7 linked regions of the Homo sapiens genome follow. The protein of the gene in region 7 interacts with the protein of the main gene of each other region in a biochemical or structural test. Each region holds a gene or a part of one and is shown on either strand. Other genes may lie near its edges.

The links.
Region 1: the proteins of NEDD4 (region 7) and TEAD2 form a complex in vitro, tested with the Homo sapiens proteins (one large-scale study listed by BioGRID).
Region 2: the proteins of NEDD4 (region 7) and PARP16 form a complex in vitro, tested with the Homo sapiens proteins (one large-scale study listed by BioGRID).
Region 3: the proteins of NEDD4 (region 7) and AMOTL1 form a complex in vitro, tested with the Homo sapiens proteins (one study listed by BioGRID).
Region 4: the proteins of NEDD4 (region 7) and SULF1 form a complex in vitro, tested with the Homo sapiens proteins (one large-scale study listed by BioGRID).
Region 5: the proteins of NEDD4 (region 7) and RAPGEF2 form a complex in vitro, tested with the Homo sapiens proteins (2 studies listed by BioGRID and IntAct).
Region 6: the proteins of NEDD4 (region 7) and ZC3H14 interact in a test that uses a peptide from one of them, tested with the Homo sapiens proteins (one large-scale study listed by BioGRID).

Annotation. Positions count from the first base shown.
Region 1 is NC_000019.10:49,342,756-49,345,416, reverse strand, and holds part of TEAD2 (transcriptional enhancer factor TEF-4), read left to right. Parts: intron 1-2,018; coding exon 2,019-2,186; intron 2,187-2,661. UniProt on the Homo sapiens protein: Transcription factor which plays a key role in the Hippo signaling pathway, a pathway involved in organ size control and tumor suppression by restricting proliferation and promoting apoptosis.
Region 2 is NC_000015.10:65,266,384-65,269,883, reverse strand, and holds part of PARP16 (protein mono-ADP-ribosyltransferase PARP16), read left to right. Parts: intron 1-3,115; coding exon 3,116-3,322; intron 3,323-3,500. UniProt on the Homo sapiens protein: Intracellular mono-ADP-ribosyltransferase that plays a role in different processes, such as protein translation and unfolded protein response (UPR), through the mono-ADP-ribosylation of proteins involved in those processes.
Region 3 is NC_000011.10:94,771,356-94,774,855, reverse strand, and holds part of AMOTL1 (angiomotin-like protein 1), read right to left. Parts: intron 1-3,500. UniProt on the Homo sapiens protein: Inhibits the Wnt/beta-catenin signaling pathway, probably by recruiting CTNNB1 to recycling endosomes and hence preventing its translocation to the nucleus.
Region 4 is NC_000008.11:69,600,847-69,604,346, reverse strand, and holds part of SULF1 (extracellular sulfatase Sulf-1 isoform 1 precursor), read right to left. Parts: intron 2,694-3,500; coding exon 2,518-2,693; intron 1,156-2,517; coding exon 1,027-1,155; intron 748-1,026; coding exon 691-747; coding exon of another isoform or gene 687-690; exon of another isoform or gene 152-686; intron 1-151. UniProt on the Homo sapiens protein: Exhibits arylsulfatase activity and highly specific endoglucosamine-6-sulfatase activity. It can remove sulfate from the C-6 position of glucosamine within specific subregions of intact heparin.
Region 5 is NC_000004.12:159,106,079-159,109,578, reverse strand, and holds part of RAPGEF2 (rap guanine nucleotide exchange factor 2), read right to left. Parts: intron 1-3,500. UniProt on the Homo sapiens protein: Functions as a guanine nucleotide exchange factor (GEF), which activates Rap and Ras family of small GTPases by exchanging bound GDP for free GTP in a cAMP-dependent manner.
Region 6 is NC_000014.9:88,622,037-88,625,066, reverse strand, and holds part of ZC3H14 (zinc finger CCCH domain-containing protein 14), read right to left. Parts: 3' UTR 2,464-3,030; coding exon of another isoform or gene 2,349-2,463; 3' UTR 98-2,348; coding exon of another isoform or gene 1-97. Other genes in the region: EML5 (echinoderm microtubule-associated protein-like 5), read left to right, coding at 1-97, 2,349-2,463. UniProt on the Homo sapiens protein: RNA-binding protein involved in the biogenesis of circular RNAs (circRNAs), which are produced by back-splicing circularization of pre-mRNAs.
Region 7 is NC_000015.10:55,861,113-55,864,612, reverse strand, and holds part of NEDD4 (E3 ubiquitin-protein ligase NEDD4), read left to right. Parts: intron 1-1,533; coding exon 1,534-1,700; intron 1,701-3,500. UniProt on the Homo sapiens protein: E3 ubiquitin-protein ligase which accepts ubiquitin from an E2 ubiquitin-conjugating enzyme in the form of a thioester and then directly transfers the ubiquitin to targeted substrates. Specifically ubiquitinates 'Lys-63' in target proteins.

The sequences.
Region 1 (2,661 bases), on a different chromosome or scaffold from region 7:
TGTGCCACTGCCCTCCAGCCTGGGTGACAGAATGAGACCCTGCCGAAAGAAAGAAAGGAAGAAAGGAAGAAGGAAAGAAAGGAAAGAAAAGAAAGAAGGAAAGAAAGAAGGAAGGAAGGAAGGAAAGGAAGGAAAGGCCTGCTGAGGGCCTGAACTTTACTGTTCTTGCTGGGAGTGTTGTTGTTCTGGAGCTTGCTGTTCACGGTTCTGGAGCTTTCTGCCATGTGAAGCAGAAGCCTGAAACTGCTCTGGGGATGTGCAGCTGAGGGCTTAGACATTGTTGGGGCTTAAGACAGGCCTTATCAGGTCCCAGGACTGGAGAGCCACCCCCTTAGGAAGCCCAGCTGCTGAAGGGGTTCAGAGGAGCAGCTGGTAAGGTCTTTGGTTTTGCCACGGTGAGAGATGGAGTCGGGCCCCTGAGAAGACGGACCTGGCACAGTGTTAGCAACTAAAGTTAGGAAGAGGAAGAGGTGCGCCTCGCAAGGAGGTGACTCAGACCAAAGGTGTGATGAGCTCTTAGGCTTCCTTAGGCCCCACTTGGCCTAGTGACACTTGGCCAGCTGTCTACACACACTTGGCCACTGGGGTCATGGAGGGAGTCTGACCTCTCAGATTTGGCCGAGGGGGAAGTGCTCTGAGGAGGAGTCAGGCCTCCTCAGGCTCCGTGAGGTCCCGTTGCTAGGGAGTAGCCACTTGCCTTAGCAACCAGAGTGAGAGGGGCTTAGAGGGAGGTATTCATCTTGAACTGGTTGCTAAGAAGTAACTGCCATAGTAACCAGGCCCTTGGAAGGGGCTGAACTCTTGAGTTGCGGGCTTCAAGGGAAAAAGGTTGAATTGGCTGGACACAGTGGCTCATGCCTGTAATCTCAGCACTTTGGGAGGCCTAGGTGGGTGGATCACCTGAGTTCAGGAGTTTGAGACCAACCTGGCCAACATGACAAAACCCTGTCTCTACTAAAAATACAAAAATTAGCCAGACATGGTGGCGTGCGCCTGTAATCCCAGCCACTTGGGAGGCTGAGGCAGGAGAATCGCTTGAACCCGGGAGGCAGAGGTTGCAGTGAGTCAAGATCGCGGCATTGCACTGGGCAACAAGAGCGAGACTTCATCTCAGAAAAAAAAAAAAGAAAAGAAAAAAGGTTGAAATTGAATTCCAGGGCTCCTTTGGTTACTGGGGAGACAGGGCCAAGACTGTTTTGGGGACCCAGACTTCTTCAACGCTGATGGACGGTGGATCTTCTCCAGAAACCAGCCCTTGGAGAACTTTGAAAGCCTGACGCGGTGGCTCATGCCTGTAATCCCAGCACTTTCGGAGGCCAAGGTGGGAGGATCGCTTGAGCCCAGGAGTTGGAGACCAGCCTGGGCAACATGGTGAAACCCTGTTTCTACAAAAAATACAAAATATTAGCTGGATGTGGTGGCATGCACCTGTGGTCCTAGCTACTCAGGAGGCTGAGATGGGAGGATCACTTGAGCTCAGGAGGTCGAGGCTGCAGTGAGCTGTGATTGTACCACCACACATTGCCTGGGTGACGGAGCAAGACCCTGTTCCCCCCCCCCCAAAAAAAAAGACAAACAAACAACAAAAAAACAAAACAACACTGAAGAATCAAGCCGGGAACTGCAGGGGTAATGGTAGGCTATGGGGCAGAGTCCCCACTGTGTTTTTTTTTTTTTTAAGATGGAGTTTCGCTCTCGTTGCTCAGGCTGGAGTGCAATGGTATGATCTCGGCTCACCGCAACCTCTGCCTCCCGGGTTCAAGTGATTCTCCTGCGTCAGTGTCCCAGTAGCTGGGATTACAAGCATGCACCACCACGCCCGGCTAATTTTGTATTTTTAGTAGAGATGGGGTTTCTCCATGTTGGTCAGGCTGGTCTTGAACTCCCAACCTCAGGTGATCCGCCCGCCTCGGCCTCCCAAAGTACTGGGATTACAGGTGTGAACCACTGCGCCTGGTAGTCCCCACTGTTTATAAGGGATGTCCCCTCTGACTCATCTGTGCCTTCCCATCTCCCAGGCGGACCTGAACTGGGGCCCAAGTGGTGAGGAGGCAGGGGCCGGTGGCAGCATCAGCAGTGGTGGCTTCTACGGAGTGAGCAGCCAGTATGAGAGCCTGGAACACATGACCCTCACCTGTTCCTCCAAGGTCTGCTCTTTTGGCAAGCAGGTGGTGGAGAAGGTGGAGGTGAGGCTGGAGGGGTGGAGCTCTGGGTCAGCACTTGGGGGTGCAGAATGGACCAGAAGCCATCATGACTCAGGCATTTGGGAGTATGCATGGAGGGAGTGGGTCCCAGCCTCTTTGAGGGTTTAATGCATGCGTTGGGAGCTAATGGGCAGTTCAGAAGTCACAGGCAGGGATCATTCTGCGGGCTGACAGGTAATGTGTAGTATAGAGACTTAGAGTCACTGAGATTGAGAAGGGTCTTATGGATATGGAGAGGTTCTTAGGGCAAGAAGGTTCAGAAGTCACACTTACAGTTGCTGGAGACTTGGGGAAGTCTCAAGTTTAGAAGTCAGAGTTTGAAGACGTCATGGAGGGGTCTTTGGAGGGTATCTGAGGGCTGGGAGGTTAGAGGAGTCCAGAGGTCTTTGGGGGTTCAGAGAATCACTTTGAGGGGCTTGTGATTTGCAGGCTCAGAGATCCTGATTCGGATCTCCGA
Region 2 (3,500 bases), 9.4 Mb from region 7:
TTACCTCATATGGGCATCAAGCACCTACTAGATGTTGGGTGCTAAAGTAGATAAGGCAATAAATAGCTCCTAGACTTTTGATTGTGGACCAGTTAAATTTCTTTTAAACTGTGGGGTATTGGGACCCAGGATTGTCAACTTTTTGTATTGCCCAAGTAAGTATGTTAGCCTACCATGTATCATCATTTTATAAAAGGATATTATAGTACTAAGAAAGGAGGATGGCCTTGACTTCAGAATGAAGAACAGTTCTTCCAAAGAAAGGTACATGGCAACCTTACATCAATATATCTGTTATATAGCCCTTATTTTGCTCATTCAGTCATAATCCAGAGAAAACTTTGCCATAGACTGGCTTTGGTCTGTGACCTACTATTTGAAAACCACTGGCTGGGTGCGGTAGCTCATGCCTGTAATCCCAGCACTTTGGAAGGCTAAGGTGGGCGGATCATGAGGTCAGGAGTTTGAGACCAGCCTGGCCAACATAGTGGAACCCCGTCTCTACTAAAAATACAAAAACTTAGCTGGGCATGGTGGCGGGAGCCTGTAATCCCAGCTACGTGGGAGGCTGAGGCAGGAGAATCGCTTGAAGCCGGGAGGCGGAAGTTGCAGTGAGCCAAGATGCCGCCACTGCACTCCAGCCGGGGCAACAGTGCAAGACTGTATCTCAAAAAAAAAAGAAAGAAAGAAAGAAAGAAAGAAAGAAAAAAACCGACTAAAATGGGCCAGGTGTGACCCATTGTCCTGGCTTGTCTTGGGTAACTGGGACTATAGGTGTAACCACTATAGAGAGGAAATTCACAGGTCTACAGTCCCCATTCCAAATAATACTAAACTCTACAAGCTCACGCCTGTAATTCCAGCACTTTGGGAGGCCAAGGCAGGCGGATCACTTGAGGCCAGGAGTTCAAGACCAGCCTGGCCAAAATGATGAAGCTTCGTCTCTAATAAAAATACAAAAATTAGCCAGGCATTGTGGCACATGCCTGTAATCCCAGCTGCTCGGGAGGCTGAGGTAGGAGAATCGCTTGAACCTGGGAGGTGGAGGCTGCAGTGAGCCAAGATCGTGCCACTGCACTCTAGGCTGAGAGACAGACTAAGACTCCATCTCAAAAAAAAAAGAAAAAACCACTGAAATGGACTAGGGGGCAGTGGCTTGCGCCTGTAATCCTAGTACTTTGGGAGGCCAAGGTGGGAGGATTGCTTGAGGCTGGAGTTCAAGACCAGCCTGGGCAACATAGCAAGACCCTCTGTCTATGAAAAATTTAAGAATTAGGTGCACATAGTAGTTGCACCTATAGTCCCAGCTACTCAAGAAACTGAGGATAGAGGATTGCTCGAACCCAGGAGTTCAAGGCTGCGATGAGCTAGGATCACACCACTGCACTCCAGCCTGGGCGACAGAGCCAGATCCTGTCTCAAAAACAACAACAGCAACAAATGCTAATTGCTTCTCATGATTTTGTGGGTTGGTTGGGTGGTTCTGGGCTTGGCTGGATGAGCTAGGGTGGCCTCACTTACATTTCTGGGGCTTCAGCTGGGATGGCCACCATGCTGGAAGCCTTCCTCTGTGAGGCTCATACTCTATAGCAGACAAGCCAGGACAATGGTGAGGGGTTCTCAGCAGCAAAGAAGGAAAGACAAGCCCTTCTCAAGTCTCTGTTTGCTATATATATGTTAATGTCCCGTTGGCCAAAGCAGGTCACATGGCCAAGCACAGTCTTAAGGGTGGAGAAGTAGGTTCCATCTTTTGATGGGATCTTGGTAGAATCCCACCTGCAAAACCACATTGCAGAGGGGTGCATGGACAAGGATGAGAGGGAATTTTTACAATAAACATGAGATGATTGTAAAAATGGAATGCAGGAGATAGATGTAAAAGTGTTAGGAAGTGGCCGGGCGTGGTGGCTCACGCCTGTAATCCCAGCACTTTGGGCGGCTGAGGCGGGTGGATCACGAGGTCAGGAGTTCAAGACCAGCCTGGCCAAGATGGTGAAACCCCATCTCTACTAAAAATACAAAAAAAATTAGCCAGGGGTGGTGGCACGCACTTGTAATCCCAGCTACTCCGGAGGCTGAGGCAGAGAATTGCTTAAAAAACCTGGAGGGGCAGAGGTTGCAGTGAGCTGAGATGGCGTCACTGCACTCCAGCCTGGGCGACAGAGCGAGACTGTCTCAAAAAAAAAAAAAAAAAAAAAAAAAAAAGTTAGGAAAATTAGAAGTGATCTCCACTTATTTTTTTAATTATTATTTAATTAATTAATTTATTTATTTTTTGAGACGGAGTCTCGCTCTGTCGCCCAGGCTGGAGTGCAGTGGCGCCATCTCGGCTCACTGCAAGCTCTGCCTCCTGGGTTCACACCATTCTCCTGCCTCAGCCTCCCGAGTAGCTGGGACTACAGGCGCCCACCACCACGCCCGGCTAATTTTTTGTATTTTTAGTAGAGACGGGGTTTCACCGTGTTAGCTGGGATGGTCTTGATCTCCTGACCTCATGATCCGCCTGCCTCGGCCGCCCAAAGTGCTGGGATTACAGGTGTGAGCCACCGCACCCAGCCCTGTGATCTCCACTTAGAAGGAGCAATTCATGCTTCTCAGCCTACTGTAGGGAAAAATGTTATTATTTATTATTATTATTTTTTTAAATGGAGTTTCACTCTTGTTGCCCAGTCTGGAGTACAGTGACGTGATCTCTGCTCACTGCAACCTCCACCTCCCAGGTTCAAGTGATTCTTCTGCCTCAGCCTCCTAAGTAGCTGGGACTAAAGGTGTGCACTGCCACACCCGGCTAATTTTGTATTTTTAGTAGAGATGGGGTTTCACCATGTTGGTCAGGCTGGTCTCGAACTCCTGACCTCAAATGATCCACCTGCCTCGGCCTCCCAAAGTTTTGGGATTACAGGTGTGAGCCACCACACCCGACCGGGAAAAATGTTATTAAAGAAAGCAGTCTTGTGCTATACGCTCTGAGTTTGCTTATGTCTCTATCCTCATGAAACCTGTTGTTCTCATGAGCAGAGTCCATGGGAGTTAAGCCTGAGAGTTTAGGGGGCTATTTTTGCAGCACATTTACCAGCTCCCCAAATAAAATTTTGATGCTCTTCATGTTTTCAAGTTTGAAAAGATCCAAAAGCTGACTGGGGCTCCTCACACGCCTGTTCCTGCACCGGACTTCCTGTTTGAAATTGAGTACTTTGACCCAGCCAACGCCAAATTTTATGAGACCAAAGGAGAACGAGACCTAATCTATGCATTTCATGGTAGCCGCCTAGAAAACTTCCATTCCATTATCCACAATGGCCTGCACTGCCATCTGAACAAGGTGGGGCCTAAGGGACACCCTGCTGATGTGGGGAAGCAGGGATGGAGGTGGGAGAGTGGGGAGGGGGAGATTCAGAACCCTAGGAGTTTGCAGGTGGGGTCGGGTAGGTTTACTAACGCCTTCTCACTCAAAATGTGGTCTGCACACCAGCAGTGGCAGCATCACCTGGAGACCTAAG
Region 3 (3,500 bases), on a different chromosome or scaffold from region 7:
CAAACTCAATTACTTATAGATGAACAAACTCCATTCCAAAGGGTAAGCATCTCAGTCCAGGCCCAATTTAAAGGGGCTATGTTTTAAAATGGTCATTCTTAACATGTGTTTCCAGTACCAGCAGCATCAGCATTGCTTGGAAACGTGTTAGAAATGCAAAGTCTTAGGCCCTATCCTCAATCAACCAAGGAAACAGAAACTCTAGGGGTGCGGCCCAGCAATCCATGTTTCAATAAACCCTCTGGGGTATTCTGATGCTCAATCACATTTGAGAACAACTGTCCTGGAATTGTACATCTAAGACCCAATTAATTTCCTCTGAGAAGTAAACAACTTGGTCATCAAGAAGGAAACAGAGCTGCCAGTTATGAAATTTGAGACACGGCCTGGTGACATCAGCCCTGACTTACTGCACCTACAGTACCAAGCACCATAAACTCTGAACTAGCCTTCTGAATGCAGACCCACCTCCTCCTGCCTCCTGTGCTCAAGGGCACAGAGGAAATCATTCTTTCATCAGAAATCATACTTTTATAGAAGCAAAGAAAGGTTTATTTTATAGATAGTAATAGATTGTGAATAGGGCATCCTAGCTTCTATCTCATTCACTAAGTAGTATTCACAGCGCTCCCAACTGTGAAAAGGAACACTTCCATGAGTAAGAACAGGGGTTCCAGGTTCTCAAAGAAGACGGATACATGCGAATTTACGTAACATTATAAAGTGTTTTGCTTCTCTGCTGTTTTAGTAATAATAATGGTAGCAGGTATTTATTGAATGCTTTCAACGTGCCCAGCATTGTGCGCATTGCTTCACTTTGCCCTCATGCAGCTCCATGAGGGAAGAACTATTATTTTCCCCATTTTACTCATGAGGCTTCAGCATGTACAATTCCGAGGTCACACAGCAAGGAGGCGGCAGGGCCAGGATACACCTGTTCTCAATCCAAAATACTACCTCTCCTTTTTCATTTTAACATATACATAACTCTTAATCTATTCAACTTCATTCATACTGTTTATGTTACTGAGTTTTAAGTACTGTGTTTTCACCTTCTTTTAAGCTATCATGCCATGTACTGTTCAAAAAGGTCCTCAACCACTCAGTTTATGCCAACTCAATCAGCATGTGCTCAAGAATCAGAGTAACACACTCTAAAGAATTCATGGCAATAAAGATCTAAAAACTGGATCAAAAGCAAACCAATTTTATTCCCACCATGGTTGGGCAGCATGCCCAGGGAAGCCCTCCCTGACCGCCTGGACCAAAGTGAGCCCTCTCTCCTCAGAGCACCCACAGTACATCACATGTGTCCCCATCATAGTAGTAACACATGGTAATGTCCACATGCCACACCCCTAATCTGTGAGCACTTCAGAATGGGAACTACACCTGATAGTCCATCTGTGCATATTCGAGACCTAATAGATGGTTTATAAGCTCAGCAGCAAGACATACAAACTCTTAAGACAGACAAAAGTGAACTATAACTTAAAAATAAAATGTAAAACTATAAAACTTTTAGAAGAAAACACAGCAGAAAATGTCTGAGACATGGGTCTAGGCAAAATGTTCTTAGATGTGACACTAAATGCACCATCCTTAAAGAAAAAAGGAATCTATCAACTGGACTTTATCAAAATAAAAAACTTTTGATCTGCAAAAGACCTTGGTAAGGACATAAAAAGACATGCTACATACTTGGGAAAATATATGTGCAAGCCACAAATCTGACTAAGGACTTGCATCTAGAATATATAAAGAACTCTTAAAGCTCTAAAGTAAAATAAATAATCCAGTTAGGGAATGGGCAAAAGGCATGAATAGTTATTTCGCCAAAGAGGATATATGGATAGCAAATAAGCACATAAAAAAGACAGACATTAAACATAATCAGCCATTAGGGTAATGCAAATTAAAACCATGGTAAGATTAGAGCACCTACTAGAACACCTATTAGGACAACTAAAATAAAAAATAGTGATAACATCAAATGCTAGTGAGGTTGCAGAGAAACTGGATCTCTCATACATTGCTAATAGGAGTGGTGCAGCCACTCTGGAAAAGTTTGGCAATTTCTTAAAAAACTAAACACACACTTACCATACAATCCAGCAATCACAATCATGGGCATTTACGCCAGAGAAATGAAAACTTATGTTCACACAAACACCTATATATAAATGTTCATAAAAACTTTATGTGAAATAGTCATGAACTGGAAAAAACCCATAGGTGAATGGTTAAACAAACCATAGTACATCCATATTATGGAATACTACTCAGCAATGAAAAGAAACAAACTATTGAGAGATGCAAAAATTTGGATGGATCCCCATGGCATTATGCTGAGTGAAAAGCCAATCTCAAAAGCTCACATACTACATGATTGTATTTATGTAACATTCTCAAAATGATAAAATTATAGATATGGTGAACAGGAGTAGTGGTTGCTAAGCATTTAGCAACAGAGTGAGGATGGGGAGAAGAGGGCCAGTGCAACTATAGAGGTGTAGCATAAGGGAGATCATTGGGGTAATAAAATAGTCTGTACCTTGATTGTGGTAGCGGTTACATGAATCTACACATGAAAAAATGCATAGAAGTACACACATAGAAATACAAATTTTACATGTGCATGTAAAACTGGTGAAATCTGAATATGCTCTGTGGACTGTACCAATGTCAATTTCCTGGTTCTGCTACTGTACTATGGTTATGTAAGATGTTACCAATGGGGGAAACTGGGTGAAGGGTACACAGGACCTCTCTACTATTTTTGCAACTTCCTATGAAGCTATGATCATTTCAAAACGAAAAGTTAAAAGTAAACAGCAGACATTTTACTTAAAAACAAAATGAAAAAATAGAGGTATATAGCTGCAATATTGGCCAGTGAGGTCTCAAACACAGGTTTAAACACACACCATAGAACGACAGTTTTTGAAAACTTAAATCTAATTCTTCAGTATCTTAACAGGGATACATTTCCAACACCTTAGAGCTACTCTCCTACTCTCTCCTAAAAGATGGGGGGAAAATGCCTGATGTGTGAGCCCCTTTAGGAGTCCAGGAGTCCTGTCCTGAGTGTCCAAAATGAATATACCCTAAGGTTACACAAGGCCTGGCCGTGAGAGCAGAGCCAAGGGCCTCACAAGTTAAAGTAGAACTCAGCTTGATGCCAACACATAAACCAAGAGCAGGAGTGGCTTCCTTCCAGCAAAAGTAGAGGACTGCCCTACCCACAATGGCCAAGATTTACATTGTACCTCTCCTTCAAGACAAAACAAAGCCAAGCCAACAAAATTAACTTTAAAAAAATCACTAGGCAAACAAAAAAACAAAACAAAACATAAAACCACAACAACCTCAGACTATTTCCAACAAACCTTGTAATCAAATATCTCCCTTTACTTGACCTCCACACTACCCCTTGCTTTTCGAGGATTTTATTACCTACTAAATTCTGAGTCATAAGAACCTGCCAAAATTAATGAAAA
Region 4 (3,500 bases), on a different chromosome or scaffold from region 7:
GAAGTAGGAAGTAGGAAGAAGGGTGCCGGGTGAGGCTTGGAGGCAGCTTAGAGAAGAACGTGGGGAGGATGGTAGAGAAACTCAATCCACTGGTCTGATTAGAAACCAGCACTGAGAAATGCAACAGTAAATCTACACCCATGATAAAGGCTTTGGTCCAAGCTTATGAGAATTTATTCTTTTTGGGGGATGTGGAGTCGTCATTCTCTTGCTTTTTTGGTATTTTAAAAATTGATATATCACAATTATACATATTTTGGGGGTACGTGTGATATATGGATACCAGTCTACAATGTGTAATGATCAAATCAAGATAATTGGGATATTCATCATCTCATTTATCTTTTCCTTGTGTTGGGAACTTTGCAATTCTTCACTTCTAGCTATTTTAAGATATACATAAATTATTGTTAACGATAATGTCCCAACTATACTATCAAATTCTATAACTTCTATCTAACTGTGTTTTTGTACCAATTAACCAACTTGAGGGTTATTCTTTACAATTCTGATCCAGCAATTATTACTCTATTGACCACTACAGAATAAGCAGCAAACCATTCAATCTTGTGACTAGGTTTACGAAATCTGCATGCTTAGTAAACAAAAATAAGGAGAAAAAAAATACTCAGCAGGGAAAGCTGCCCACTAGGACTGGTTCCCAGAAGCACCCCAGGAACCAATAATTACCCTCTTTCCACTAGGAATGTATCACGCCAAATTTTGGCCTTCTTGTTTGTTCGAAACCTGAAAGCAAAATGATAATATTTACTTTTGGCATCTGGACGTTTTTCCAAATGGATCTGTGCTAACAGCTTATTTAAAGAAACACCTCTCACTTCCCACAGACCATGAGTGCATCTCCATCAATATGCTATTCACAAGCAGCTGAGAAATGCTCAGCTTGGGGTGATCCTTGTGGGCAAGGCATATTCTGCCTCCATGTCTTCAGCTGCTGGCTGGCTCTGGGCACCAGCTGGAGCTCAGTGTATTTGGGGCTGGCTGAGAGGAGGAACAATGACACACCTGTTACCTGGCTTTTCTGGGTCCAGAAGTTTGAGGACAGACTTGCCGTCCACATCAGGAGGTGTGTCGAGCCCAGCAATATCCAGGATCGTGGGGGCCAAGTCAATGTTGAGAACGATCTGTGGGACTCTGTAAAGGGGCACACGGTGATGGCTGAGATCCAATGCCAGGGGAAGGTGGCACTTAGGGCTGCTTTTTCTACAGCAGTGACTCATTGGCCTTCAACTCTTCTCACCCTCTCATCTGGTCTCCTAGGCATGGGTAGTTGTGTGGCAAGGGTGGGTGTGTGATCACAGCAATGGCACTGAGCAAGATTAACTGACTCTTGCCAGGGTCAGGCTGGAGAGATGCCTGCACCCCTGTATTCTGACCACATCACCAGGCAAGATGCAGCCTGATACATGGTTTTTGCAGCAAGCATACTTTTGCTTAAAACCCAATAGTCCATAACTTTTCCGTTGAACAAGAGCTTTAAAATCAATATTTTAAAAAAGGATGTACAGTTTTTACAGTTGAATTCAATCTATGCTATCTAGTCCTTAAAACATAAAGCCTTCTAGATATAGATCTGACAATTCTCAGGGTGTTTCTAATAATCTTAGGAAGCACAATAACATTCTTCAAAGAAACCTTTCTTACTTCAATTGCCCTCTCTCCAGGATGTAGTATGATGCAGCAGCACATGTGGTACTCGGGGGAGATTCAGAACATCTGGGCTCTGGGCCCCACTGCCACCACTTCCAGAATCAGGGATCTGAGAGGGGCACTGACGCTGTCTGCCTAGCTTCACTGTTACATCAGGGGTCCAGGCTAGATGCTTTTCAAGGGCCATTCCAGCTTCTGGATTCTACTTCCACTTTTTCTTTTAGTCTTTCCATAATTCTTTCATGGATGCAATCCCATTTTATTCAAAACATCCTGAGATGATTGACAAGGCCATTTTATGATGGGAAAATAGGCAAGGCCATTTCATGATGGGAAAATAGAGATGCAAAGAGAAGCAGTGACCTGCCTACAGTGACAGAAATAGCAGCCTAGTCCTTTAGCTCTTTTTCCTTTAAAAGAAAAGCCAGCTTTTCAAAATTTATCTTTTAAAAACATTTCTTTCGGAATAATTTTTAAAAGTTAAACACTAAAAGGATGGTGTCAGGTTTTTTTTTTAAATGACAGCGTATCTCTGATTCAAAGAAGGGTGATATCCCAGAAGATCACATCCTGTCTGTGCACACAGACCAAAAAGACATAGATTCCAGTCAATTTGAGAGAATTAGTCATTGATACACTTATTTTTCCTTTCTCTTTAAGTAGTATACTTGAGCTAATTTAAGATGTGGCAGGGAGGAAAAGGTTTTCATCTTCGAAATTAACCAGCCTACACACATCCTTTTTTGTTTTGGATGAAAGGAAACCAGATACTGAGACTGGTAATTGAATTATCTTAGACACACTTGAGGTACGACAGTTGAATGTTGCAAACAGAGAAATACGTACATTGATCCTGGTTCTACACTTGGACCACGAATAAAAAAAGGCACACGAATATCAAAGTCATATGGCATGGATTTCCCCTTGACCAGTCCAAACTGCCCAATATGGTAACCATGGTCGGCGGTGTAAATGATGTAAGTATTCTCCAGCTCCCCCGTCTCCACGAGCATGTTATACAGCTGAAATACAGCAAAGGAACAAGTCAGAATCAATTGTGCTGGTATAAGATGATGCTCAATAGTGTTGCCACGATTGCCCCCAAATCTTTTTCCTGTTATTTTTAAAAGGCAAGAGTTGCTTTAATAACATTATCCACATTTTCTATTTGCTTACAGTCTGGGAGGGAAAGGTCCAATGGTAAAGGTGAAATGTAACTTTTTGGAATCTAGCACATTCTACTTTTAGGCTTTTTGTTTGCTTGTTTGGTAGAACAAAAACAAAAACACCCCGCACAACAACCTCTACCATCAAACTTTATAGGTTGTACTTTGAAAATCCATTGTTAAAATTATCATCACATATCTAATTACCAAGGGTTAAAAACAGGCTGCTTCTGAGCCTGATCCAGTTAAATCCAGCCTGAGGCACGTCTTGTTTGGCTTATACTATGTTTCAAAGTTCAGAAAATTTCAAATAAAATTTTTTGTGTTTCTGGCTTCTTTAAAAAAGTCAGAAGACCTGCTGATACTTGATCCACATTTCTACATGGCAAAATTTAGCTGGAGCTGAGTAATTGCTGTTCCTTTAGATGGGGCCCTTAACTTAAAGTTCAAGTTCAGCACAAGCTCCATCAATTCTTTATTGCCTTTGAGGATGTGGCCCCTGATCTACGCTGATTTGATTTTTCTCTCCTCTTTTTTACTGGCTCCATAAGAAACCAACCCTGGAGAGGTAGATGGAATGAGGACAAGATAAGGGAGGGATGATTAAGCCACTAAACACATACTCTCTCTCTTTCTTTCTCTCTCAAAATGATGCTGGAAAAT
Region 5 (3,500 bases), on a different chromosome or scaffold from region 7:
CTGTTAAATAATAGAAATTGTATAAAATATGCTATAAAGAGGACTAACATTAGGCATTACACTAAATAATGTACTTTCACTTAATCCACAAAACCTCAGACAGCTATTATCCATTTTACCGACGAGGAAATTGTTACCAAAAATGGAGTGAAGAGAAGGAATACCCCATAAAATACGGATTATCAAGGACCAACGATTTTCAGTGGTTTCCATATCTCCTAAGTCTAAATCAAATTTACCTTTCTTTTAAATAGAAACGGGGCCTTGCTATGATGCCCAGGCTGGTCTTGAACACCTGGGCTTCAAGAGATCCTCCCACCTCAGCCTCCCAAAGTGCTGGGATTACAGGTATGTGTCACCACTCCTGGCCAAAGTTACTTCCATATAAAATTTACAAAGAAGGAATACTTTTTTTCTCATTAAGTTTTCATATGAATCAAGCAAAATCAGAGTTTTTATTTCTAGAAGGTTATCATATCATTATTTCGGATAGTCCATTTATATCTGAGGCGCATCCCATTATAATTTTATGCAACTTGAATTTCAAATTATCACCAATGGACCAGGTGCAGTGGTTCACACCTGTAATCCCAGCACTTTGGGAGGCTGAAGCAGGAGGATCACTTCTGCCCAGGACTTCATGACCAGTCTAGGCAACAAAGCGAGACCCTCATCTCTACAAAAAATTTTTTAAATTAGCCAGGCACAGTGACATAAGCCTGTAGACCCAGTTACTCGAGGCTGACGCAGGAGGATCATTTGAGTCTGGGAGATAGAGGCTGCAGTGAGCCCGGGCAACAAAGCAAGACCCTATTCCAAATATATATATCTCGCTCTCTTACCAAACATTGTCTATCGCCATACCATCCTGAAAGCACCCCATCTCATCAAATATCACCAAAGAAAGACCTTATTGTGATTCTTTAAATCATCCAAAATCTACCCAAATAAGTTTTTTTCAGGTCCAAAGTAAAATTTAAATGAAAAAATGCAGTGAATTTTCTTATGACGCAAACAATATTTTCTTTCAAAACTGAGCTTTAGAATAACACTGCATCCTTCCTTTCTTAAAAACAGTGAGATTAAATGATAGTGATAAGAAGTTATAACTAGTTTTGTTTTTATTTTATGTTCCTTCTTGAGAGAAAAACCAAGGTGGTCATCTTCTCCTTAAAAAAAAAAAAAAAAAAAAAAAGAAAGTTCTGTGAAATTCCAGCATTTGGGAATGACTGCGACTGCATTAAACGAGTATCTGCATAAAGCACTGCAGTTGGAGAGATTTTCATTTTGAACCTTAGCCAAGATATGCAAAGCTAATTATGGAACTGTTAATTACTAAATGTTTAAAGGGTTATTTGAAGGCGACTAAGGTTCTATCAATATTGCAAGGAATGTTAATATTTTTATCATAAATTTAATTCCTCATTTGTTCAAAGTCACATACCAATAGAGTTTGAAGCTAATATTTCAGTTATAAATGTATTTCTGTACCAAGAAATTCAAATGTCATTGTTATGAAATCTAACTGCTTGTGGCCAATCATTTCTTTATGAGACATGCTTTTTAAATGGCATACAGATAGTTTAGTTGTATTCTATGAACAAAAACTATTTAAGAAACAAATATTACTAGAGCCCCAAAATGGGCTAAAATATAATGAGAGTATAAGCTGACAAATATGAGTCTGCTTATAAGCAATGGTAAAAAGAAACTCAAATGGAAAATTTAACTATAACAGACACAATTCTTCCATTAGATTTGAAAGTTAAATATTTGTCAGAGATATTCTTTCATGCCGTTTCTCATAATTTACAGTTCTCTGAGCTAAAGTTACTTTTTTCAGCCCTCTCATTATGACTCACGATGAATTCTACCAAGTACTTAGCAATGAATTAAGTCCTGTATTCTTTATAACACATCAATGAGTTAGTACTTATATCAAAAGTTGTAATAGCCCAAAAAAAAGTAAGATTATTAAATAGGAGGAGATGGGGTGGGGGTTATTTTACACATAACATTTTTAACAGTAACTTTTACAACTAGCTAAAAATGCATTACATTAGGTCTTTAAAGAGAAGAAACAGTTTTGCAATAGATGTTTCACCTGAAAAACTGAAAATGGTATGCATTTAGACACTCTACAGAAGCAATTTCAAAGGGCCTGAACTCAACAAGTTAACAAAATGGTTTAGAAAAACCATTTTATTGTATAAGCCTTGGGGGATAAAAGCTGTTTGTAATTTATTTACATCTTTTACTTCACCAAATTGCCTTGGTGACCAAGCTTCTCATTTAAGTGATTAAAGACATAAACCCAAATGGTTAAATAAAGCAATTACTTAAGAGTCCTGTTTTTCAACAGAGGTGCACTGAAAAATATCAGTAGAATGTTTTCAGGGCTCATTATTTTCAAGGAAGTTTGTTATTTAGAATACAATGCCCCATTGACTAGAACTCAGCCAGGTTTCCAGACACACAATATGGGACACACATTGGATTAGAGTTTTCCTCCTCCTCTCACAATATCAGGTGAAATAGTGATAGTCTCTTGAAACTGAGTATGTATAACCTGGCTAAAACTTAGATGATAATTTTTTTGGTATTTCTCCTTACTATTCCCCCTCTCTAAAGATATAACTGAAATGCGTTTCCATTGTGCAGGTGGACATGAAAAGCTCCCAATTTATGAAAGTTCCTGGTACTCTTCCCACCCCTAGATTCTCTTCTAGCCAACTTCTTAGGTTACACCAATGACATCAGGATTACTTCTAGGCAATTGATTGACCTAAATACAAAACTATGTTTTCACGGAGCTTGGGAAATGAATGAGGCCAGCAAGCCTTTAAAAAACAAACAGAAATGAACAGCAGGAAAAAAAATTACATATGTTCCCCAATTCTTTTCCTTTTGCCTATAACGAGAATCATGCAAACTCCTTTATCGAGTCTATCCTCAGAAACAGAAGGAAGCAAAACAGCAAAACTTTCCTAATTCCTGTCCTTCTGTTCATGATATCAAGCTTATTTAACATGGTTGCTTTTCTAATATTATAAAATTCGAACTCACAAACATTTATAAGACAAGGCTGTATGGAAAATCTTCCAGCGTTCCATTAACAAAGCATTCTTAACATAAAAAGTACCTTCTACAAAAACTTTTTTTTTTATAATTTTTGAGTAAATTTCAAATTTTTATAAGATTACTCCTGGCCAGTCAGGTAAAGATGGAAAACGTTCACATTTCGAACAACTTTCTCTTGAAAAGAAATAAACGTGGGGATTTGTAGTAATAACCAAACGAACATCAAAGTTAATAGGGCTGACACTTAGGAATGTTTGAAATGTTTGGTAGGTTTCCTTATGTTTACTTTTTCTATGAAGGTTTGGTAGGGCAAATGGGCTGCCTTCCGACTGTCAATAAAGCTTTCATGTCGTGGGTTAGTAGTAGCTGGCCCAGGCCAAGTTCTGTGTTGGGTCAGTTTTTACTCTATTCTACACAAC
Region 6 (3,030 bases), on a different chromosome or scaffold from region 7:
TGTGTAGAATCGTGGCGAGAGCTCACAACGGGCCTGTGTTTGCCATGTACACCACCCTGCGAGATGGACTTATCGTGACTGGGGGAAAGGAAAGGCCGTGAGTCCTCTTTCTTTTCACAGAATATTTATGCATTTGTGACCTACCTGAGGTTTGCAGTTAATTATTCTAGTTGTTTCTAGGCTACACAGAGTGTCCTCTCCGACCTTCCTCCTCATATGCTTCTCCTTTATTACCTTTTATGTGCCTTCTATTTGATTCTCATTTCTGGTCTTAATTCACTTCCAATTTTTTTCATGTTGGGGTGATACTTTTTCTGAGGTGTGGATAGGTAGTTGTCCTACAAGTTGAGTTACTTTTCTTAATGTCTGTATGCCTGTGTATGATTTGCTGAGTAGGAGGCCCATGGGGGAATCTGGAGCCAGGGTTGTATTTTGACTGCCTGCTCTCTTTTTGTTCAGAATGGATTCTAAGGAGTAGAATGCACATTGTTGCTTTAGAAAAGGATGAGGGAACTAGAGAGAACTGCCTTGTTTCCTTTTGCTTGAGGCAAATTTAAACTGTTTTATACAAGACCTCAAAATTTGAGAAGAGGTCTCTTCTGAGTGATTTTCAAATCTCCCAACAGTAACCAGATACTTATGATTTGATTTGTCACCAACATAGTCATATGCATGTTGAAACATGACATGTAGGCCAGGCACAGTGGCTCACACCTGTAATCTTATCACTTTGGGAGGCTGAGGCAGGTGGATCGCTTGAGCCCAGGAGTTCAAGACCAGCCTGGGCAACATGGTGAAACCCCATCGCTATAAAAAACAACAATTAGCCGGGTGTGGTGGCACATGCCTGTAGTCCCTGCTACTCAGGAGGCTGAGGTGGGAGGATCACTTGAGCCTGGGGAGGTCAAGGCTTTAGTGAGCTGTGATGGTGCCACTGCACTCCAGCCTGGGTGACAGAGTGAGACCCCATTTAAAAAACAAAAACAAAAACAAAAAAAAATGTGACATATAGTTGACTAAGAAGTACATTTCAATACAGGATTGAAAGAACCCACATATGTTAATTAAACACAAGCGCAGAATTTGTGCCTTTTACATAAAGGAAGAATGCACATAGGCATGCTTTCAGACAAGCAATTCATCTAGCAGAAAAGGAAGGAATACATTTTTCAGCCCTTCCAGGAATAAAATCCATAAATGGGCTCTATTTCGTCCTCCAACACTTGTATTTCCCACGTCATTTACTCCTGCACACCCCCACTCACTAGAAGCCTGCTAAACTGTTCCAGTGAGATATTTTAACACCTGATAGGGAATAAATATGCTTCTGTTTTGGCCTTCAAAAATAAGCTCTGGGCCAGTTGCAGTGGCTCACGCCTGTAATCCCAACACTTTGGGAGGCCGAGGTGGGCGGATCACGAGGTCAGGAGTTTGGGATCAGCCTGGCCAATATGGTGAAACTCCATCTCTACTAAAAATACAAAAATTAGCCAGGCATGGTGCCTGTAATCCCAGCTACTTGGGAGGCTGAAGGAGAAGAATCGCTTGAACCTGGGAGGCACAGGTTGCAGTGAGCCGAGATCACACCACTGCACTCCAGGCCAGGTGACAGAGCGACACTCTGTCTCAAAAAAATAAATAAATCAACTCTGTAGCATAGCATTTGTAATTCTATTATTTTGCCTTACATTTCCATTATCCTTTTAATAAAATTGTTTTTTTACATCTTCCTAATCAAGAAGTATTATGAGGCCAGGCACAGTGGCTCATACCTGGAATCCCAGCACTTTGGGAGGCCGAGGCAGGCAGATCACCTGAGGTCAAGGTATTTGAGACCAGCCTGGCCAACATGGTGAAACCCCATCTCTACTAAAAATACAGAAATTAGCTGGGTGTGGTGGTGCACACCTGTAATGCTAGCTACTCGGGAGGCTGAGGTAGGAGAATCGCTTGAACCTGGGAGGCAGAGGTTGCAATAAGCCTAGATCATGCCACTGCACTCAAGCCTGGGAGACAGAGCGAGACTACATCTTAAAAAAAAAAAAAAAAGTATTATGAGAGAGGATAATGTATTGTAATGTATTGTAGAGGCTAAATAAAATTATGCTCATGTCAGAAAAAAAGAGTATTTCTCAAAATAAAATTCACTGAAACTGGATGTTTATTTTGACTGAGATATAGTATATCCTCAAATTGCCATAGAAAGTTTACAAGAATATTAGAGGTAAATTATAAATATCAGGGCCTTTTTAAAAAAAAAAGATTCTGCTTATAACTTGGTATTTGTTTATAATAAAAATTATAGTAGCCAATAATGAACACTTACTCTGGCTTGGTTATTTACTTAGGTCAAAAGAAGGAGGAGCGGTTAAACTGTGGGATCAGGAACTGAGGCGGTGCCGTGCCTTCAGGCTTGAGACAGGACAAGCCACAGATTGTGTTCGTTCTGTGTGCAGAGGCAAAGTAAGATGTTCCATGAGCTGATACAGTGCAGCAGAAAACAGAAAGTGGTTATTACTGTGATTCCCTCACCCTTTGCAGCCTAATGAACAATACTTAATAATGCATAACGATGGATTTGCTTGCCAACATTACTCTGTCTTTGCTGCTTTCTTTGCCAAAGTTAGCACCAGTGTGGTGCATAAGCTAGGAAGCTATTCTGTCTAAATACTGTATGTAAACCTCCAATATTTTCTAGAATCTGCCAATTTAACAACTCTAGTAGACATAATTGAAAGCCCTTGGCAGTTGACTCATATTAGGACAGCTGTCTCCATTTTTTAAAAAAACACACATTCCCTAGATAAAACGTGCAGTAAACAAACAATGAAATACTACTCAGCCATAAAAAATAATGAAATTCTGTCATTCTTGGTGGCAACATGGATGAGACTGGAGGACATGATGTGAAGTGAAATAAGCCAGGCACAGAAAGATAAATACATGTTCTCACTCCTGTGCAGAAACTAAAAAAGTTGATCCCACAGAGGTGGAGAGTAGAATAGTGGTTACTGGAGGCGGACAAGGGGG
Region 7 (3,500 bases):
CCTCTCGGGTTCAAGTGATTCTCCTGCCTCAGCCTCCCGAATAACTGGGATTTACAGGCATGCGCCACCACACCTGGCTAATTTTGTATTTTTAGTAGAGATGGGGTTTCTCCATGTTGGTCAGGCTGGTCTCAAACTCCCTACTTCAAGTGATCTGCCCGCCTCGGCCTCCCAAAGTGCTGGAATTATAGGCCTGAGCCACCGCACCTGGCCTATTTTTTTTTTTAATCATAATACAGTTTTGTTGGAATCTTGGCAAATTTATAGATTAACTTGGGAAGAATTGACACCTTTGTGAGACTGAGTCTTCCCAGCCAAGAACAGACTATGTCTTTCCCTTATTTAGGTCTTCTTTTGTGTCCTTTTGGGAGCATTTTAAAGTTTTCTTCACCAGTTTATTTCAGTTTCTAATGCTTTCCTAACCAATCAGTATTTAATAGAATCTTTGACCTACTGCCTTTTCTTTTGTGAGGTTTCTCATATAAAAGCATTAACTCTTGCTACTCTTTTCTATCAATTCCTTACTTTAACTGCCCTAAGGCTTTATGTTAATTTTGCCCCTTGTTAATCTCTGAGAAACCAAACTTCTCAGTGCATTTTTTAAAAATCTTTCTTTGGCTGTTTTATGACTTGATAAAATGCCTTGCCTTGGTCCAGAGGAGAAAGAGAGAAATCAGACAAGGGAATGAGAATGACTTTTCCATCACTAGAGAGTTCACTGTAGCAGTTATTTCTAAATCATTTGCCTTCCCCATCTTGCCCCTTTGTATATTTGACCTTTATCAAATGATTTTTTCCATGTGTCAGATAGTTATTGATTTCTACCGTAAGCAAGGTGCTTTCTCTGTAGGAAAGACAATGACCAATAAGAAATAATCCTTGCCCTTCATTCAGTTGATAATTTAGAGAACAGCCTAAGATTACACTAGTAGTTTAAACTATACTTCTCAATTTCTCAGTACTTTCCAACTTTCCGTGGTTGTTTATTTAAACGATTTTTTGTCCTTTTTTTCTATTAGATTTTTTAAAATTTTATTTTTGATTGACAATAATTGTATATATTTATGGAGGACAATGTGATGTTTTGATATATACTTACAATGCAAAATGATTAAATCAGGCTAATTAATCTCATTAAATCACCTCACATACTTTTATTACTTTTTTGTTATGAAAATTTTAAATAGATTTGTTTTAAAGTTCTGTTTTATTGTTGTTTTGAGATGGGATCTGGTTCTGTCACCCAGGAAGAACCTGGTGGAAACTTTACAGGCTTGTGCCTTTAAAGTTTTTTTTGAAAAATTTTTAGACAATTTTAAACAAAATTTAAATGGTTATCATTTTTGCAAAAAGAGTCTTCATTATCATAAAGTATTTACATTATGGTCTTAAAAGTTGAGGATTGTTTATTCTGTCTATGCATAATTTCTAAAACTTGATATAATAAATCTCTTTTTAAATTTCCTTTAGCATATAATTTAGAAAGTTAAAAAAATCATGCGTAAACTTAATTGCTGCCATCCTGTTTTTCAGCCTGGCTGGGTTGTTTTGGACCAACCAGATGCTGCTTGCCATTTGCAGCAACAACAAGAACCTTCTCCTCTACCTCCAGGGTGGGAAGAGAGGCAGGATATCCTTGGAAGGACCTATTATGTAAACCATGAATCTAGAAGAACACAGTGGAAAAGACCAACCCCTCAGTATGTGCTGATGGCTTTCACAATTTTAATCTGGAAACACTTTAACTACGAATTTTCATTTTGAAGTCATGTCTCAGATGGATTCATAACAGTATAGTGATCCATAAACTATAAGAATACTAGGATTTTTATTGCCCAGGACTTTAAAAATCCTAACTCTGCTGTTTCGTTTTTTAAATGACTTGATAATATTCAAAATTACTTGACTCTAGATACTACCCTTTTAATTGCGTCTTAATTTTAATAGGTTTTTAATTTTATGTAGCCACAAATGGTAGATTTTTATTTTTAGGCTGAATTAGAAGTCTTGGAGAATTCTTGTAGTTTGTTATTAAAATGTAATAAAATGTTAATTTCTATAGTACTCTATTTTTAAAATATAAATTATTTGTAAAATATAAAGGACTCAATAATAAGGGTATTACGTTAAACGCGCATTTGACAGTCTGGTCAATGTCCACATAACTTCCAGCACGCACAGATCAAGGACGGAATGACTTTCAACATATTCTAACTTCTGTCTCCTCAGTGATTTTTTTTATTATTAGACTGTATATACATTTATAAAATCTCCCATTATTCATATTTATTCTCAAATCCCCTTCCATTTTTCCTTCCATATAGTCTTATAAAGTCTTCCTTTAGTCTTCTGTTTGAAACATACTCGTAATTTTTTAATGTGTTCATTAGCCTCCTAATTTTTGGCTATGATATTTTGTGCCTGATATATGCCAAGCACTTTTACAGATATTTTCTGTTCTCAAATCCTTCCAAAACAAATCAGCAATTCAAGTACTTCATGGCACAGAAGCTTCAGTCTTCATAGAGTGACGTACAGACTGCAAAGCTGAAGACACTATAAAATTCTGTAGAATTGCGCTGTTGCATACCTCAGTATTATGGCAAGCCTTACATGAGCAAAATCACAGTTCTTTCACTGTGGCTGATGTCATTTTCAGGTAGCCAAAATCATATATTTAGGGGGAAAAAAACTGAAGCATTCCCTTAGAGCCATGTATCAAAATTATGTTTTCTTTAGCTACGGTACAGTAAGAACTGGTCTTCTGACTAGCCTGAGCTCATGTCGCATTAAATAAACAGTAATTTTATTATTAAATATTTGAACAAAATTCTTGATCTGATAGACTGGTTATATTAAATGCAAATAATTAGAATAATATAAATGACTGGGGTAAGGGTGTTCAATCTGATTTTTTTTAATTTTAATTTCTGTGGGTCCCTAGTAGGTATATATGTTTGTGGGGTACATGAGAGGTTTTGATACAGGCATGCAAGGCATAATAATCACATCATGTAAAATGGGGTATCCATCCTCACAAGCCTTTATCCTTTTTGTTACAAACAATCCAATTATAGTCTTCTGGTTGTTTTTAAATGTACAATTAAATTATTATTGACTGTAGTCACCTGTTAAGCTATTAAATACTAGGTCTTATTCATTCTTTCTGTTTTTTTTAATACTCATTAACCGTCCAATCTGATTTATTGTACCTCTCCTAAGCTCAGACAAATCTTTACTATTACCTTTTTCAGGACAGGCCCATGACTGTATATTACGAAAAACAGATACCATTACTAATAGATATGTAATTCCTAAACCATTAAGCTTTTCATTATAAAGTTCTTACACCATCTTTCATTCTGCCCTTCACATTCATGCATGGAGTACTCTACTCCTGGCTTAAGACCAATTCTAGAAAATGTACTATCTGATTCACAAAGATGTATGTATGTGTAACTCTATTACTCTTATAATAACATGGCAAAATAATACAATGA